Regions from separate parts of the Homo sapiens genome. Here region 1 is linked to region 2. The links come from fine-mapping of genetic effects on gene expression. Tissue or cell type: pancreas. Region 2 holds a variant in brackets; the other region holds the start of a gene. All regions are shown on one strand. Distances are from middle to middle.

Region 1 (8,000 bases), 55 kb before region 2:
TTTAGAGGCTACATTAAAAAAAAAAACTAGTTGCCATGCTGGGGAGGGGTTTGGGTTACACAGGTGTATGCACTTATGAAACTTAGTGAAGTGTGTGAATTTCATTGTATGTAAAGTTTACCTCAAAAGAAAATATTGAACGCCAGTTAAAGATACGCCTGTAATCTGACTTCTTTGGGAGGCCAAGGCGGGAGGATCACTTGAGGCCAGGAGTTTGAGACTACCCTGGGCAACACAGCAAGACCTGTCTCTACAAAAATAAATAAGTAAATAAATAGCCAGATGTGGTGGCACACGATTTGCAGTCCCATTACTAGGGGCGGGGAGGGGCGCTGAGGCAGGAGGTTTACTTGAGCCCAGGAGTTCAAGGCTGTATTGTAGTGAACTAAGATCATGCCACTGCACTCCAGCCTGGGCTACAGAGCTAGACCCTGTCTTTAAAAAAAAGAAAAGAAAAAAAAAAGTATGTACACTGAAATATTTAGGGAACAATAAACCAATGTCGACAATTTATTTTGAAATGCATCCAGAGATGAGTTGGATTGATGGATAAATAGTGTAATAGGTAGATGTGAGATAAAGCAAATACAGCAAAGTGTTCATGGTAGGATCTAAGTGGCGGATATGCGGGTGTCCACTGTAAAATTTTTCAACTTTGCTGTAATTTAGAAACTTTTCATGGCCGGGCGCGGTGACTCATGCCTGTAATCCCAGCACTTTGGGAGGCCAAGGCGGGCGGATCACGAGGTCAGGAGATCGAGACCATCCTGGCTAACACGGTGAAACCCCGTCTCTACTAAAAATACAAAAAATTAGCCGGGCGTGGTGGCGGGCGCCTGTAGCCCCAGCTACTCGGAAGGCTGAGGCAGGAGAATCACTTGAACCTGGGAGGCAGAGCTTGCAGTGAGCCGAGATTGCGCCACTGCACTCCAGCCTGGGTGACAGAGCGAGACTCCGTCTCAGAAAAGAAACTTTTCATAATAAAATGATGGAGAATATATGATTGGGGTTGTTTTGATATCTGCATTTACAAAATGGAGGGATAAGATGGATTTCTAGTAACTTCTGTATGTCACATGGTAAATATAATATTTGTTTTCAACCTTTCTTTCTTTCTTTTTTTTTTTTTTTTTTTTTGAGATGGAGTCTTGCTCTGTCACCCAGGCTGGAGTGTAGTGGTGCAACCTCGGCTCACTGTAACCTCTGCCTTCCAGGTTCAAGTGATTCTCCTTCCTCAGCTTTCCGAGTAGTTGAGATTATAGGTGCATGCCACCTCACCTGGCTAATTTGTGTGTGTGTGTGTGTTTTTAGTAGAGACAGGGTTTCACCATGTTGGTCTGGCTGGTCTCGAACTCCTGACCTCATGATCCACCTGCCCCGGCCTCCCAAAGTGCTGGGATTACAGGTGTGAGGCACCGCACCCGGCCTGTTTCTAACCTTTCTAAGCAAACCATACATTTAAATGAAATCAGAGTGGGCACAGTGGCACAGGCCTGTAATCTCAGCACTTTGGGAGGCCAAGGCGAGCAGATCACTTGAGGTCACGAGTTAGAGACCAGCCTGGGCAATATAGTGAAACTCTGTCTCCACTAAAAATTAGCTGGGCCTGGTGGCGGGTGCCTGTAGTCCCAGGTGCTCAGGAGGCTGAGGCAGGAGAATTGCTTGAACATGGGAGGCGGAGGCTGCAGTGAGTTGAGATGGTGCCACTGCACTTCAGCCTGGGCAACAGAGTGAGACTCCATCTCAAAAACAAACAAACTAACAAAAAAATGTAATTGACAAGAAAAATAGCTGTTTAGATATAAGGAGAAATAAAAGATACTATAGTAGCAGAACCTGATCTAGCTGGGTCACGGGTGGGGTCTAGAAGCATTCCTGAGGAAGTTACACTTAAGCTGAGACAGGTAGAAATTATCTAGTTAACAAAGGGCTGTCCTAATTACTCTAGTTGGATAACCGCTCCCAAAACTTAGTGGCATAAAACAATTATTTTATTATGCTCATGGATTCTGAGAGTCAGAGGTTTGGACAGGGCTCATATGGGGACAATTTTTGTCTCCTCCATGATGTCTGGGGATTCACCTGGAAAGACTCAAAGGTGACTTGATAGACTTGATGGCTGTGGAGTAGAATCCTCCAGAACTTCTTCCGTGGTCTTCTCCCAGTCTGACTGGGACTATTGACTAATGCCTATACATAGCTCCATTGGCCTGGGCTTCCTCAAAGCATGTCTGCTTCAGCATAGTCACACTTCGCATATGATGCACCATGGTTCTACAGCTCATTCCAGTGGACGAGAACATTGGTCAAGAAGCTGCATTGCCTTTCATCACATAGCCTTAGAAATCACCGTGTCACTTCCACTGTTTTCTATTGGTTGAAGCTATCCTAGTCCCACCCAGATTCATAGAAAGCAATCATAGAGTCCGCGTCTTGATAAGAAGAGTGTCAGAGAATTTGCAGCTGTTTTAAAATCACTGCAGGACCCCATTCTCCATGATGTGATTATTACACATTGCATGCCTGTATCAAAACATCTCATGTGCCCCCTCAATATATATACCTAAATATACCTGTTATGTACCCAGAAAAATTAAAAAATAAAAAAAAAAATCACTGCAGGGGTTGATGGGGAAACACTAGACAGAAGGAATATCGTGTGGGAAATCCCTGTGATGAGAGTGAGGTCAGCAAATTTAGTACATAAGTAACTGCACATTCACCTCTCCCTCAGCACTCCCTTTCACCAGCCCTTGCTTAATTATTCTCCATAGAATGAATCACCTTCTAATATTTTTTTTTTTTTTCAGACAGAGTCTTGCTCTGTCTCCCAGGCTGGAGTGCAGTGGCAAAATCTCGGCTGACTGCAACCTCCGCCTCCTGGGTTCAAGCAATTCTCCTGTCTCAGGCTCCTGAGTAGCTGGGATTACAGGCACACGCCACCACACCTGGCTAATTTTAATATTTGTATTTTTAGTAGAGACGGGGTTTCAGCATATTGGCCAGGCTGGTCTCGAACTCCTGACCTTGTGATCCTCCCGCCTCGGCCTCCCAAAGTGCTGGGGTTACAGGCGTGAGCCACTGTCCCCAGCTTTTTTTTTTTTTTTTTTTTTTTTTTTTTGAGACAGAGTCTCACTTCAACACCTAAGCTGGAGTGCAGTGGCGCGATCTCGGCTCACAGCAAACTCTGCCACCTGGGTTCAACCCATTGTCTTGCCTCAGCCTCCCAGGTAGCTGGGATTACAGGCACGCCCGCCGCCACACCTGGCTAATTTTTGTATTTTTAGTAGAGACGGGGTTTCTCCATGCTGGCCATGCTGGTGTCGAACTCCTGACCTCAAGTGATCTGCCCGCCTCGGCCTCCCAAAGTGTTGGGATTACAGGCGTGAGCCACCACGCCTGGCCTAATATTCTATATTTTGTTTAATGTTAATTTTGTTCATTGTCTTCTCCCAGTAGCTTTTGAGCTCCAATGTGGGCAGGGTATATTTTCTCCTGGTTTGGTTGTTGATGTATGTACAAATTGATTAGAGTTTGAGTGAATGAATGAATGAATGAATGAATGAACAGACCAAGACCCTCTGAGATGAGAATTTGTTGAGGGCATGACTAAGGAGAGACCCTCCTGTGAAGGGCGTTATTACAGTGTTATCTGGGCATGCTCAGTATTAGCAGGCTCCATTGGGAATGGCTTTATGGGGGGCATAAGCATGATCTGGCATTTCCCCCTAAGCATTTTCCTAGAAAAAAAAAATCAAGGCTGGAGATTGGCCCGTAATAAGCAGTAGAAGGGGAAACAAGAAAATGTCCAGTGGGCAGGGGAGGCCAAATCGCAGAAAGCCTCGGGTTACGTCCTAGGCAAGGTATATGAGGCAACGAGAAACGTCCATGGGCGGAGCGTCCTCGGCATTATGTGAGCGGGGTCGGGATCAGGACTGAAAAGGTGAGACTTGGGACTGGGACTTTGAAAAGCTGCTTAAGGAACTGGGCACTGCTCTGAGGCCGTGGGAGAATCCAATTAAGACTATCAGGGGCTGGCTGGCGTGGTGGCTCACGCCTGTCATCCCAGCGCTTTGAAAGGAGGCTGAGGAGGGAGTATCTCTTGAGCCCCAGAGATCAAGACCATCCTGGGTAACATAGTGAGACCCCCATGTCTAAAAAAAATTAGCCAGGCGTGGTAGCGCACGCCTGTAGTCCCAGCTACATGGGAGGTATCGCTTGAGCCCAGGAGGTTGAGGCTGCAGTAAGCCACGATTGCAGGACTGCGCTCCAGCCTGGGCGACAGAGTGAGACCCTGTCTCTTAAAGAAATAAAAATAAAAAAGTCAGAAGAATGGACACTGGGAGTGGACGAAAGGTAGGGTCCATTGCTTGGTGTTGGAAGTGTCGGAAGCAAAGCATAAAGAACCTGGGGGCTTGTCTCAGGAGGGCGATGACAGCCAATGAAAAGCAGTCATGGGCGTGGCGCTGTCAAACTTCGAGGGGCGGGACCGAGGACACAGAGCCGGGGCGGAGCCCAAGGTGAAACCAATGAGAAGCCTCCGGGTGGGCGGGGCATCGGCCTAAGGCCAAGGGCGGAGCCAATGAGAAGCAGCGCCGCGTTCCCGCTGCCCCCCGCCCCCGTGGGGCGCGCGCCGGAGCCACGGGCAGCCGTTAGGGGCGGGGTCTGCAGCCGCCCGCGCGCGGCTCGCGCCCTCCCCTTTGTGTCGCCATGGCGGCGGCAGCGGCGACGAGAACGGCGAGCGAGGGGTCGAGCGCGGCCGGGGCCTGAGGAGGCTACGCGACCATGGTGGTAAGGGTCCCACGCGGCCGTCAGCCTGTCCGTCCGGATGTCAGTCTGTCCGTGCGCAGCCCCGCCCCGCGCGCCCCGCCCCCGGCCCCGCCCGATCCCGCGGCCTGTGCTTCAGCCGTGGTCCCTCCCGTCCTGCGGCCCCATCCCGGGTCCCAGCCCGTACCTCGACCCCGCCCCCTAAGCGCGCATCCCCGTCTTCCACGCCCTGGATGGGGTGACAGGGACCTAGGGCCTGGGCTGGGAGGAGGCGGGGCTAGTCCAGGAAGGGACCCGCGCCACCCAAGTGGCCCCTGCAGGGGCCTCCTGAGGCTCCTGGGTCCTTCCCCAGCTCCCATCCCAGCACCTTCCTCGGCATCCTTCTGCCAGCCCTCAGCCCTCCCCGGCGGAGCCCCCTCCTCCTCCCCACAGCCCCTTTCTCATTCCCGAGCCCCACCCCCCACCCGCTCCATCCCCAGCCTGACCCTTTTCTTCTCCTTCTCCCTCATTTTCACCCTATCCCAGTTCCTCTCAATCCCCCCCGCCCCGCATCAGTCTGAGCCTTTGCCTCGTCTCTCCAGCCACTCCTTCCTTACTCCACCCCAACAGGCCAGCACTGTACCTCCCTTGATCCTCGGGTCTGCTCCATCTCCTTGTCCTCATCCCCCTCCCCCACCATTTCCCTCTCCCACCATGCTGCTCCCGCTCATTCATCCATTCATTCCCTCACTTAGCAGACATTCACTGAGACCGCCTCTGTGCAGGCCCCACGCTCCAGGCACAGAGAGAGTCAGCTCCCATCCTGCCTTGGGGAACCTTATGGGCTGGAGGGGGACAGACCCTGAGGGTGAGACCCTGAGGGTGACTGGGGGTTGCAGGGACATGGAGCAGGGAGACGCTACAGCCCAGTGAATCTGTCTGGCAGCTGGTTAATTTATTCATCAGATTTTACCCAGTCCCTGCTGCGCGCGACTGGGCTGGCACTGGGGACCCAGAAAAGAATCAGGAACAATCATGTCTGAACACCAACTCAATGCCCAGCTCTATGCTGGGGAGCTCAGTCTGGGGCCCTCCTTCTGGGAGGCCGGTCATAGTCCAATGAGAGAGATGAACTTGTCACCACCAGTGCCATCTCAGAGTGATCAGAGCTGTGAAGGGAGAAGCTCTGGTCAAGGCATGGAACCTGGGATGGGGGAACCTCAGGGGATGGAGAGAGTCCAGAGGAGATGCCAGGTGCAGCCTGAAGGGTCAGGGAGAACTTCCTGGAGGAGGGCACATGTGAGTTGGGACCTGAGGGGTGGGAGTGAGGATGAATGTACCCAGGGAAAGGTGGGGCGAGTGTTCCAGGCTGAGGGAACAGCCTTTGCAAAGGCCTAGAAGGAAATGAGAAGAGGGTGCTTTTTTTGGACTCTTAGAAGTTCAAGAGCTCTGAGAGTGGGGGCAATGGGAAGAGATGGGACTGGAGAGGTAAACAGAAATCAGCTCAGGGAAGTCTCGATTATCAGACCAGAGAATTCAGACTTCGTCTTGAAGACAACAGGGAGTCATTGAAGGCCCAGGATCTATGGAGAAATAGAGCCAGATTTGTGTTTTCTGAAAACGATCCAGGCTATTGCGGAAAAGCTGGCAGGAGGGGAGAGGCTGGAAGCAGGAAGGCTGATGAGATGGGAGTTGTGATTGTCTAGACAGTGGTAGGAGATCACTGTACTCTGCAGGGGCTACGGAAGGGTTTTCAGCAGGGAGAGATGGGACCAGCATGCTCTCCATCCTGTTGCCCCGCCTCACGTCTGGCCCCTGCTTCTCCAGTCCCCCACCCCAGACCACACACGAAGAAGCAGTCCTGTCCTCAGCCCAGCCCTCACCTCCCCCGACCTGCCATCCTGCTTCATGCTCAGGGCGGTGTGTGGAGCGCCCGGGGCTCTGGACCCGCGCTGCCAGATAACAATGCTCTCGTTGTCTCTTTGCTCCCATCTCTGGGGGCCTCTGATTCTTTCTGCTCTACAGGCACGCAGCACTGACAGCCTGGATGGCCCAGGGGAGGGCTCGGTGCAGCCTCTACCCACTGCTGGGGGGCCCAGTGTGAAGGGGAAGCCTGGGAAGAGGTGAGGGTGAGGGAGGAAAGGGCTCAGCTAGGAGCTGGGGAGACTCAAGGAGCTGCTGGTGACGCATCCCCTGTCTCCCAGGCTCTCAGCTCCTCGAGGCCCCTTCCCGCGGCTGGCTGACTGCGCCCATTTCCACTACGAGAACGTTGACTTTGGCCACATTCAGGTATGGGGGCTTTGCATTTGCACCCAGGAGGGAAGACAATATCCTACCCAACCTTGCAACGATATCAGGTGCTTTGCTTCTGAAACTTATCCCTGTGACTGGCTGCTGCACGCGTCTGAGCAGTCAGTAGCAAAAGTTGCAGGAGCCACAGCAGATGGGGAGAGCTGCTCATTCATTCATCCATTTGTTCTTTTATTCATTCAACAACAACTTTTGTTAGGTATCTGCTCTATGTCAGGGACCAGGACATCACCAGGCCCTGTCCTCGGGGAGGTCCAGAAGGGAGTCACAAACCCGTCCCTAGATAGTGCCATCCCCAGGAGGTCAGGACTGGGACAAAAGTCCACCTGGGCCTTGCTTTCCCTCTGCAGCTCCTGCTGTCTCCAGACCGTGAAGGGCCCAGCCTCTCTGGAGAGAATGAGCTGGTGTTCGGGGTGCAGGTGACCTGTCAGGTGAGGCCATCCCGCCTCTCATCTAGCCTGAGAGAATGGCCACTGTAGTCCTCAGCTCGGTGTCATGGGGCCCCTGCTCCCTTCTGTCCCTCTGCTCCCACAGGGCCGTTCCTGGCCGGTTCTCCGGAGTTACGATGACTTTCGTTCCCTGGATGCCCACCTCCACCGGTGCATATTTGACCGGAGGTTCTCCTGCCTTCCGGAGCTTCCCCCGCCCCCCGAGGGTGCCAGGGCTGCCCAGGTAACCTGCTTGTTGTCTCAGCCCCTGCCTCATGAGTGTGTCCTCATCCACAGTGTGAAATCATCAAGGCAGCGGGATAGAGAAATATTTAAATACTGGTATGGCCCAAGTCCCAACCAATCTGAATGAATGGAGAAGCCTTAGAAACGTAGTAGGCTTCTGCTACATTTAGCTTTGCTAAGTTTTAGGATCATGGGGAGTTCCAGGGGGTCCCATGGGAGGGTCACCATGGTCATGCCAACCAGGGTACTCAAGAGCTTGGCCCAGCCTGC
Region 2 (8,000 bases):
CACTGCAACCTCCGCCTCCTGGGTTCAAGCAATTCTCATGCATCAGCCTCCCAAGTAGCTGGGACTACAGGCATGCGCCACTACTCCTGGCTAATTTTTTATATTTTTAGTAGAAATGGAGTTTTACCATGTTGGCCAGGCTGGTCTCGAACTCCTGACCTCAGGTGATCCACCCGCCTCAGCCTCCCAAAGTGCTGGGATTATAGGCGTGAGTCACCGCACCCGGCAGCATTTCATTTTTGAGACGACGTTTACAATCTGCCCTGTCCTTTTGGAGAAGTTTAGTTTCTAAAGCCAACCCCAGGATGCACCTTGTTTCTACTCTGGTACCAGCTGAACCATCTCTGTCACTCAGCCCCCTCCATGTCCTCTCCTGACACCAAGTCCCTTTGGGTTTTATGGAGCTCACCTAACCAGCTCGGCCCAGGCTGTAATGAGAGAGACCAGTGGAGTGTAAATTCCTGCAGGTGCAGGACAATGGGGTTGAGAGGGCTCTTACACCAGATGTCCCCTCAGCTCGAAGGGCAGAGAATCGGGTTCCAGAGTGTCCAAGTCTCCGGCCACCTGGTCATAGATTCCTCTTGGATCCTGATATGTGTCTTCAGGCCAGTGGAGGTCCCAGGGTCCCTGACAGGCAAAAAGTGGAGTTAGAACCATGGAGAGATGCCCTGTAGGTCTTCATTGAAGATCTGGGGGATACATGCCCCTGCTTAACTTCCCAGAAAAAAGTGTTTTAGCTTTTACTAAAATCCCAACATATACAAAAAAGGAGTGTGATTATAATGAATGCTTATGATGAACCCCATGTGCTTATCACCTAACTTCAACAATATCAGGCTGGGCACGGTAGCTCATGCCTATAATTCCAGCACTTTGGGATGCCAAAGCAGGAGGATTGCTTGAGACCAGGAGTTCGAGACCAGCCTGGGCAACATAGTGAGATCCTGTATCTACAAAAAATAATTTTATTTTTCTTAGACAGGGTCTGGCTCTGTCACCCAGGCTGGAGTGCAATGGCACGATCTTAGCTCCCTGCAACCTCCACCTTCTGGGCTCAATCCATCCTCCCACTTCAGCCTCCCAAGTAGCTGGGACTACAGGCATGCATCACCACACCCAGCTAACTTTTGAATTTTTTTTTTTTTTAAAGACGAGGTTTCCATTGTGGCCCAGGCTGGTCTTGAACTCCTGAGTTCAATCGATCCACCCGTCTCAGCCTCCCAAAGTGCTGGGATTATAAGTCACTGGGATTATGAGCCACTGCACCGAGCCTATAAAAAATATTTTTAAAGAAATTAGCTAGGTGTGGTGGTGAGCGCCTATAGTCCTAGATACTCAGGAGGCTGAGGTAAGAGGATCGCTTGAGCCCCGGAGGTCAAGGCTGCAGTAAGCCATGATCATGCCACTGCACTCCCGCCTGGGTGACAGACTGAGACTATCTCAAAAAAAGAAAAAAAGAAAAAAGAAAAAACCAGTAGCAACCCTTGGTCAATTGATTTCTCTGTATTTCTATCTTGTTCCCCTCCCCGACTAACTGGATTATTTTGAAGCAAGCCCAAGATACCCAATGATTTCATGTTAGAAAAATAATGTAAATGTCAGAAATATAAAACCTTTAGGCCAAGCATGGTGACTCATGCCTGTAATCCTAGCATTTTGGGAGGCCAAGGCAGGTGGATCACTTGAGATCAGGATTCGAGACCAGCCTGGGCAATGGGCAAAACCCTGTCTCTACTAAAAATACAAAAATTAGCCGGGCATGATGGTGCATGCCTGTAATCCCAGCTACTTGGGAGGCTGAGGCAGGAGAATCGCTTGAACCTGGGAGGTGGAGGTTGCAGTGAGCTGAGATTGTGCTACTGCACTCCAGCCTGGGTTACAGAGCAAGCCTCCATCTCAAAAATAAATAAATAAATAAAATTTTTAAAAATGAAAACTTTAAAAGTCCATGTTATCAGGTATGGCAACTGTGGAATGTAAGTTATGATTATATTGTCCTATGAATTTCCAAAACAGTTCCCTAATCATAATAGAAAAACAAAACAAAGCAAAACCAAACAAACAACAACAACAAAAAGAACATGAATGGTAGCCCTAACTGGGGATGTATTTTGTTCTAGGGCTGGGAGAAAATGATTATTTTAGTTCAGCAAACTTTAGAGCAGATTGGCCCATGCTCCAAATATGGCCTGCCACCTGCTTTTTTATACTGCCCAAGAGCTAAGAATGGTTTTTATTTTTTTCTTTTTCTTTTTCTTTTTTTTTGAGACGGAGTCTTGGTTTGTTGCCCAGGCTGGAGTGCAGTGGCGCAATCTTGGCTCACTGCAACCTCCGCCTCCCGGGTTTAAGCGATTCTCCTGCCTAGCCTCCCGAGTAGGTGGGACTACAGGCGCCAGCCACCACACCCGGCTAACTTTTTGTATTTTTAGTAGAGACGGGGTTTCACCATGTTGGTCAGGCTGGTCTCAAACTTCTGACCTTGTGATCCGCCCGCCTTGGCCTCCCAAAATGCTGGGATTATAGGCATGAGCCACCGTGCCCGGCCTGGTTTTTCATTTTTTAATTGTTGGGAAAAAATGAAAAAAGATAACATTTGTGACATAGAAAAATTACATGAAGTTCAAATTACAGTGTCCAAAAATTAAGTTTTGTAGGAACATAGCCACACTCATTCATTTATGCATCGTCTATGGCTGCTTTTACTTTACGGTGGCAGAGTTTGTGTAGAGTTTGAGGAAGACCGTATGTCCCACACAGCCCAAAGCATTTACTACTATCCGGCCCTGTTCGGAAAAAGCGTGCAGCCTCCATCTACGCTTTAGAGAGTGCATATGGTCCAGCACCATGGACAGCGCTTTGCGCCATGCTGGTGAGGAGCTAGGATCTGACAACAGTCCCGGTATCGGAGGTCGTTCACAGAGACAGAAGGAAATCCTTGGCCCAGGAGGTGCCAGAGCATCAGCCAAGGCCACACAGGAAATCAGGGGTTCTGTCCCATCTCCCTAACTGTGCAGCAATGGGTGGGGATTGGCTGGTGGTCAAAGTGCCTGTCTGTTGTTTTTGCCTGTACAGCCACCATCCTCATTTCCCTGTGAGCTCTCTGTCCCTCTCCTACTCTCAGCCCAGTGACCTGAGTGGGGCTGGCCCCTACTCCCTGATCCCATGGTGAACTGGCCCAGGCCTCTCCTGTTAGCATATTCCATCCCCTGACTCAGGGATGTGTTCAGTGATGAGGATGTGACCCAAGCTAGACCAATTAAGTGTCAGCATTGGGCATTTGGGGCCACTGGAAAACAGGTATACTCTTTCTTTGAAGATTTCTAATCTCGTAGGATACAAATCTAGATTTTCTGGGAATATTTTTTCCCTTTCTTTTTTGAAACAGTCTCTCAGGCTGGAATGCAGTGGCACAATCAGGGCTCATGGCAGCCTCAACTTCCCTGGCTCAGGCATTCCTCCTACCTCAGCCTCCTGAGTAGCTGAGACCACAGGCATGCACCACCATGCCCAGTTAATTTTTTAAACTTTTTTTTTTTTTGAGACAGAGTCTTGCTCTGTTGCCCAGGCTGGAGTGCAGTGGCATGATCTCGGCTCACTGCAACCTCTGCCTCCTGGGTTCAAGCGATTCTCCTGCATCAGCCTCCCAAGTAGCCGGGATTACAAGTGTGTGCCACCACATCCAGATAATTTTTGCATTTTTTGTAGAAATGGGGTTTCACCATGTTGGCCAGGCTGGTCTCGAACTCTTGACCTCAGGTAATCCACCCACCTCAGCCTCTCAGAGTGCTGGGATTACTGGTGTGAGCCACCATGCTCGGCTTAACTTTTTTTTTTTTAAAGATGGGGTATTATTGTGTTGCCCAGGCTGGTCTCCAATACCTGGGCTCAAGCAATCCACCTACCTCAGCCTGCTGAGATTAGAGATATGAGCCGTGACCATGCCTAGCCATAAAAACATTTTTAGGGAAGAAATTCTGGGCCCAGCTGGGCCTGATGACAATTGTATGCCTTGATTTTTCAGTTGAATGGGCCCCCAAATTCTCTCTTTCT[C/T]TCTCTTTAACCAGTGGAGTAGATATGGCTAATTATCTTTAAAAATTCATGTCTACTTCCTTCCACAGTAGCAGAATTGCAGCAAGGCACATCACTGCTAAGCTAGACCACATTTCACAGCCTCCTTTGCCGTCAGATGTGACCATGTGACTCTCTTCCCACCAGGGGAGTGAGAGCAGAGTGGTGTGCACCATTTCTGGGCCTGGGCCACAAGGCAGGGTTGTGCCTCCTCCACATTCTTTCACCTTTTCCCATGGGTTGAACCCCCAGTGAACTGGCTCATTCATGTAGACTCGGTTGACTTGAGCAGGGCCACTCACGTCTGACTGAAAAAGAAATAGACTGCCTTCTTTTTTTCAGAGACAGGGTCTTGCTCTGTTGCCCAAGCTGGAGTGCAGTGGCACCATCATGGCTCACCGCAGCCTCCAACTCCTGAGCTCAAGGGATCCTCCTGGCTCAGCCTCCTGAGTAGCTGAGACTACAGGTGCACACCTCCATGCCTGGCTCATTTTAAAAAATGTTTTGTAGAGACAAGTCACTATATTGCCCAGGCTCGTCTCAAACTTATGGGCTCAAGCGATCCTCCTGCCTTGGCCTCCCAAAGTGTTGGGATTACAGGCATGGACCATCATGCCCAGCCGACTGTCTTTAAGCCACTGGATCATGGTCAGGCCTCTTTGTTACAGCAGCTAGCTGGCCCTAACTAATACAAGCAATAGGAGGTAGGCTCCCAGCACTAGCCAGGAAGGATGGTTGCTGATGCAAAGCTTCTCACCATCTGCACTTCATCGTAGAGGGGTCCCCAGGCTCCAGACGGGGGGTACGTTCTTTCTACCTCATCATACAAGTGCCCAGGGAAGGCCATATCCTCATCTTCACCTGTGAAACCTGGAGTTGGAGTGGAAGGGAGACACGATCAAGGCACCCAGTCCAGGCGTCGGGGGTACCTCTGAGTGAGGGAATCCTGACATGGTCCTAACTCACCTCGGGAATAAGACACCTCCTCCTGCGTCGGGGGCAGCTGGGGGCTGAAGTCCCTCAGGGAGCGGTAATACGGCTCTGCCTCTGTTGTGCTGACCTGTTCCCCACACGCAAAACAAACAAAGCCCTTTCCATCCTCTGACCCCACTGTGCCCGGAAGGGCAATGATCAACCTGATGCTAACGGCAGGGCTTCAGTCGCCGTCGGTGCCCTGATTGTGGGGTCACCAGGGCCACCCCCACTTACCGTGGAGCTCTGAGTGTCCCGCTCTCCTGTCCACTGGCTCTCCTCATATTCGTTCCTGACTCGGTCCTCTTCCGACCTTCCAGGATGAAGGTGTGGGGGGAAGTTGAGTGCTGCCCCCCGCCACCAGTCTCCCCCAAACCTCCCTCAGAGCCTTCTTTACAGAAAAATATCCCCACTTACCCTGCCTCTGTCTTCTCTGAGATGCCTGAAGGAAACAGGAATAAAGGGCTCAGTGACCCTATGCAAGCCCCCCACCCCGGCCCCAGGAAGACCTTCAGTATGCAGCAACCACAGGGTTCCCTATCACCCTCGGGTCTCCACCCTGGCAGGGAAGGGTCTCTCCTCACCCTCAGCAAGACGCCTGAGTCTCCGCTGCCAGAGGACCCCCCCGACACAGGAGGCATTGGAGAGGAGCAGAAGCCCCCCAAGAGCGAACAGCACAGGCAGCAGGGGCAGCCCCGAGGGTCCTAGGGGTGGAAGATACCCCTCAGTGAATCCCAGACAACAGGCTGTAGGCCAGGGGTGGGTCTCCCCGAGAAAGTGTAGCCCTGACCAAGTCCCTCCCCCAGGGTCAGAGAAACAGATGGGCAGAGGTCTCTGTGCCCACCCTTTCTGCCCACCCAAGGGCAGGTGGCTTCTTTCTTAAGTCAAGCCATTAGCAAAACTTCCTCCGTTTGCTTGAACTCTGCAAACTCAGAACGGAACTCTGGACTCAGGAGGGAGCTTCAGCTCGTTAGCTGGGCACTGAAGACTTTCTGTGGTCCAGCCTCTTCCCACGCCTCCAGCCATGCCCACCAAACTTAGACCCTGGTACTGGACTGTCCAGCCACACAAATCAACCACCAGCTGTTTCCAGAATCACTGAAGCAAATTCACACCTCAGAGCTTTGGAATAGTTAAGTGTCTGTCCTCAAATGTCCTTTCTTCTCAAGCAAACTTCTGTTTGCCTTTCAAATTCTATCTCAAGGTCAGGCGCTGCAGCACATGCCTGTAATCCCAGCATGTTGGGAGGTCAAGGTGGGAGAATCGCTTGAGCCTAGGAGCTCAAGACCAGCCTAGGCAACATAGTGAGGCTGATTCTTTACAAAAAAAATTAAAAATTTAGCAGCATGGTGGTGCATGTCTATAGTCCCAGCTACTCGGGACACTGAAGCAAGAGGATTGCTTGAACCTGGTAAGTCAAGGCTCCAGTGAGCTATGATAGCACCACTGCACTCCAGCCTGGGCAGCAGAGCAAGACCCTGCCTCTGAAAAAAAAATCCCATCTCAAGGACTTCTTTATTTTATTTTGTTTTTTAATTAAGACGGAGTTGGCTGGGCACGGTGGCTCACGCCTATAATCCCAGCACTCTGGGAGGCTGAGGGGTTGGATCACAAGGTCAGGAGTTCAAAACCAGCCTGGCCGATATGGTAAAACCCTGTCTCTACTAAAATACAAAAAATTAGCTGGGTGTGGTGGCAGGCACCTGTAGTCCCAGTTACTTGGGAGGCTGAGGCAGGGGAATCACTTGAACTGGGGAGGCAGAGGTTGCAGTGAGCCGAGATCACGCTACTGCACTCCAGCCTGGGTGACAGAATGAGACCCTGTCTCAAAAAAAAAAAAAAAAAAAAAAGAGTCTCACTCTTTCACCCAGGCTGGAGTGCAGTGGCATGATCTTGGCTCACTGCAACCTCCACCTGCAGGGTTCAAGCGATTCTTCTCCCTCAGCCTCCCAAGTAGCTGGGATTACAGGCGCATGCCACCACACCCGGCTAATTTTTTTTTTTTTTGTATTTTTAATAGAGACGGAGTTTCGCCATGTTGGACAGGCTGTTCTTGAACTCCTGGCTTCAAGTGGTCTGCCCACCTTGGCGTCCCAAAGTGCTGGCATTATAGGCGCGAGCCACCGTGCCCAGCCTCAAATGACTTCTTTCCACCAACTTCCATCCCAGCCAATATCAGGCTGACTTGGCTGCTATATCCCTGAGGACAAGGCTGAACCCCTCTAAGTAGGCATCTGTTGGGCGGGCAATCTCCCCTGTCTTCTACTAATAGCACTTTTTTCCCCTGGGGAGAACAGCCACTCCCCAATCTCAGTCTTGGGTTCAGGCAGGACTCCACAGTGGGCACATGGCCCGGCCTGGAAAATAAGAGTCTCCATTCCTCTCTCCACAGTGATTGTTTAGACACAGGCATTTGACCCAACGTGTGTTTTTAACAAAACATTTAGGACAATTCTACTAGCTGTCAAGAAGATGGAGGTGGAGGAGGGCTTCTCTGCCCCTCTGATTGAAGAAACTCAGAAAGAAGCCACCACAGATGAAGGCAAAGTTGAGAGAGGGTGAGAAACAGATCGCTGGTGAGATTTTTGAGCACCTGAAAGTGGCCACACTTGGAATTTTTTATTTCATATACCAAGACTTTTTCTTTTTTTTCTTGAGACAGGGTCTCAACTCTGTTGCCCAGGCTGCAGTGCAGTGGCGTGAGCTCGGCTCATTGAAGGCTCAACCTCCTGGGCTCAATCAATCCTCCCGCATCAGCCTCCTGAGTAGCTGGGACTGCAGGCATGCACTGCCATGCCTGGCTAATTTTTTTTGTTTTTGTTTTATAGAGATGGGGTTTCACCATGTTGCCCAGGTTTGTCTCCAACGTCTGGGCTCAAGTGATCTACCTGCCTCAGCCTCCCAAAGTTCCGGGATTATAGGCATGAGCCACTGTGCCCAGCCAAGCCATTCTTTTTCGT

The links. PIP is the estimated chance that this variant, and not a neighbour inherited with it, causes the effect.
Region 1: ARHGAP33 starts here. The variant in region 2 is fine-mapped to the expression of ARHGAP33 in pancreas (GTEx, PIP 0.98).

What each region holds. Positions count from the first base shown.
Region 1 is chr19:35,770,874-35,778,873 of GRCh38, forward strand. It overlaps ARHGAP33 (Rho GTPase activating protein 33), which reads left to right and starts at 4,691. Exons shown (of 21, transcript NM_001366178.1): 1 at 4,691-4,791; 2 at 6,772-6,869; 3 at 6,951-7,035; 4 at 7,407-7,487; 5 at 7,591-7,728. The coding sequence starts at 4,786. It overlaps PROSER3 (proline and serine rich 3), which reads left to right. Exons shown (of 11, transcript NM_001367856.1): 11 at 1-293. RefSeq lists enhancers at 4,183-4,242, 6,264-7,149, 7,150-8,000 and a silencer at 4,473-4,952.
Region 2 is chr19:35,826,019-35,834,018 of GRCh38, forward strand. It overlaps NPHS1 (NPHS1 adhesion molecule, nephrin), which reads right to left. Exons shown (of 29, transcript NM_004646.4): 24 at 5,625-5,744; 25 at 5,458-5,482; 26 at 5,278-5,353; 27 at 5,035-5,128; 28 at 4,826-4,938; 29 at 1-627. The coding sequence ends at 496. Among named protein-coding and RNA genes, the nearest start is that of PRODH2, 17 kb to the left of the region's middle. The variant C/T (reference allele first, on the strand shown) is at 4,051.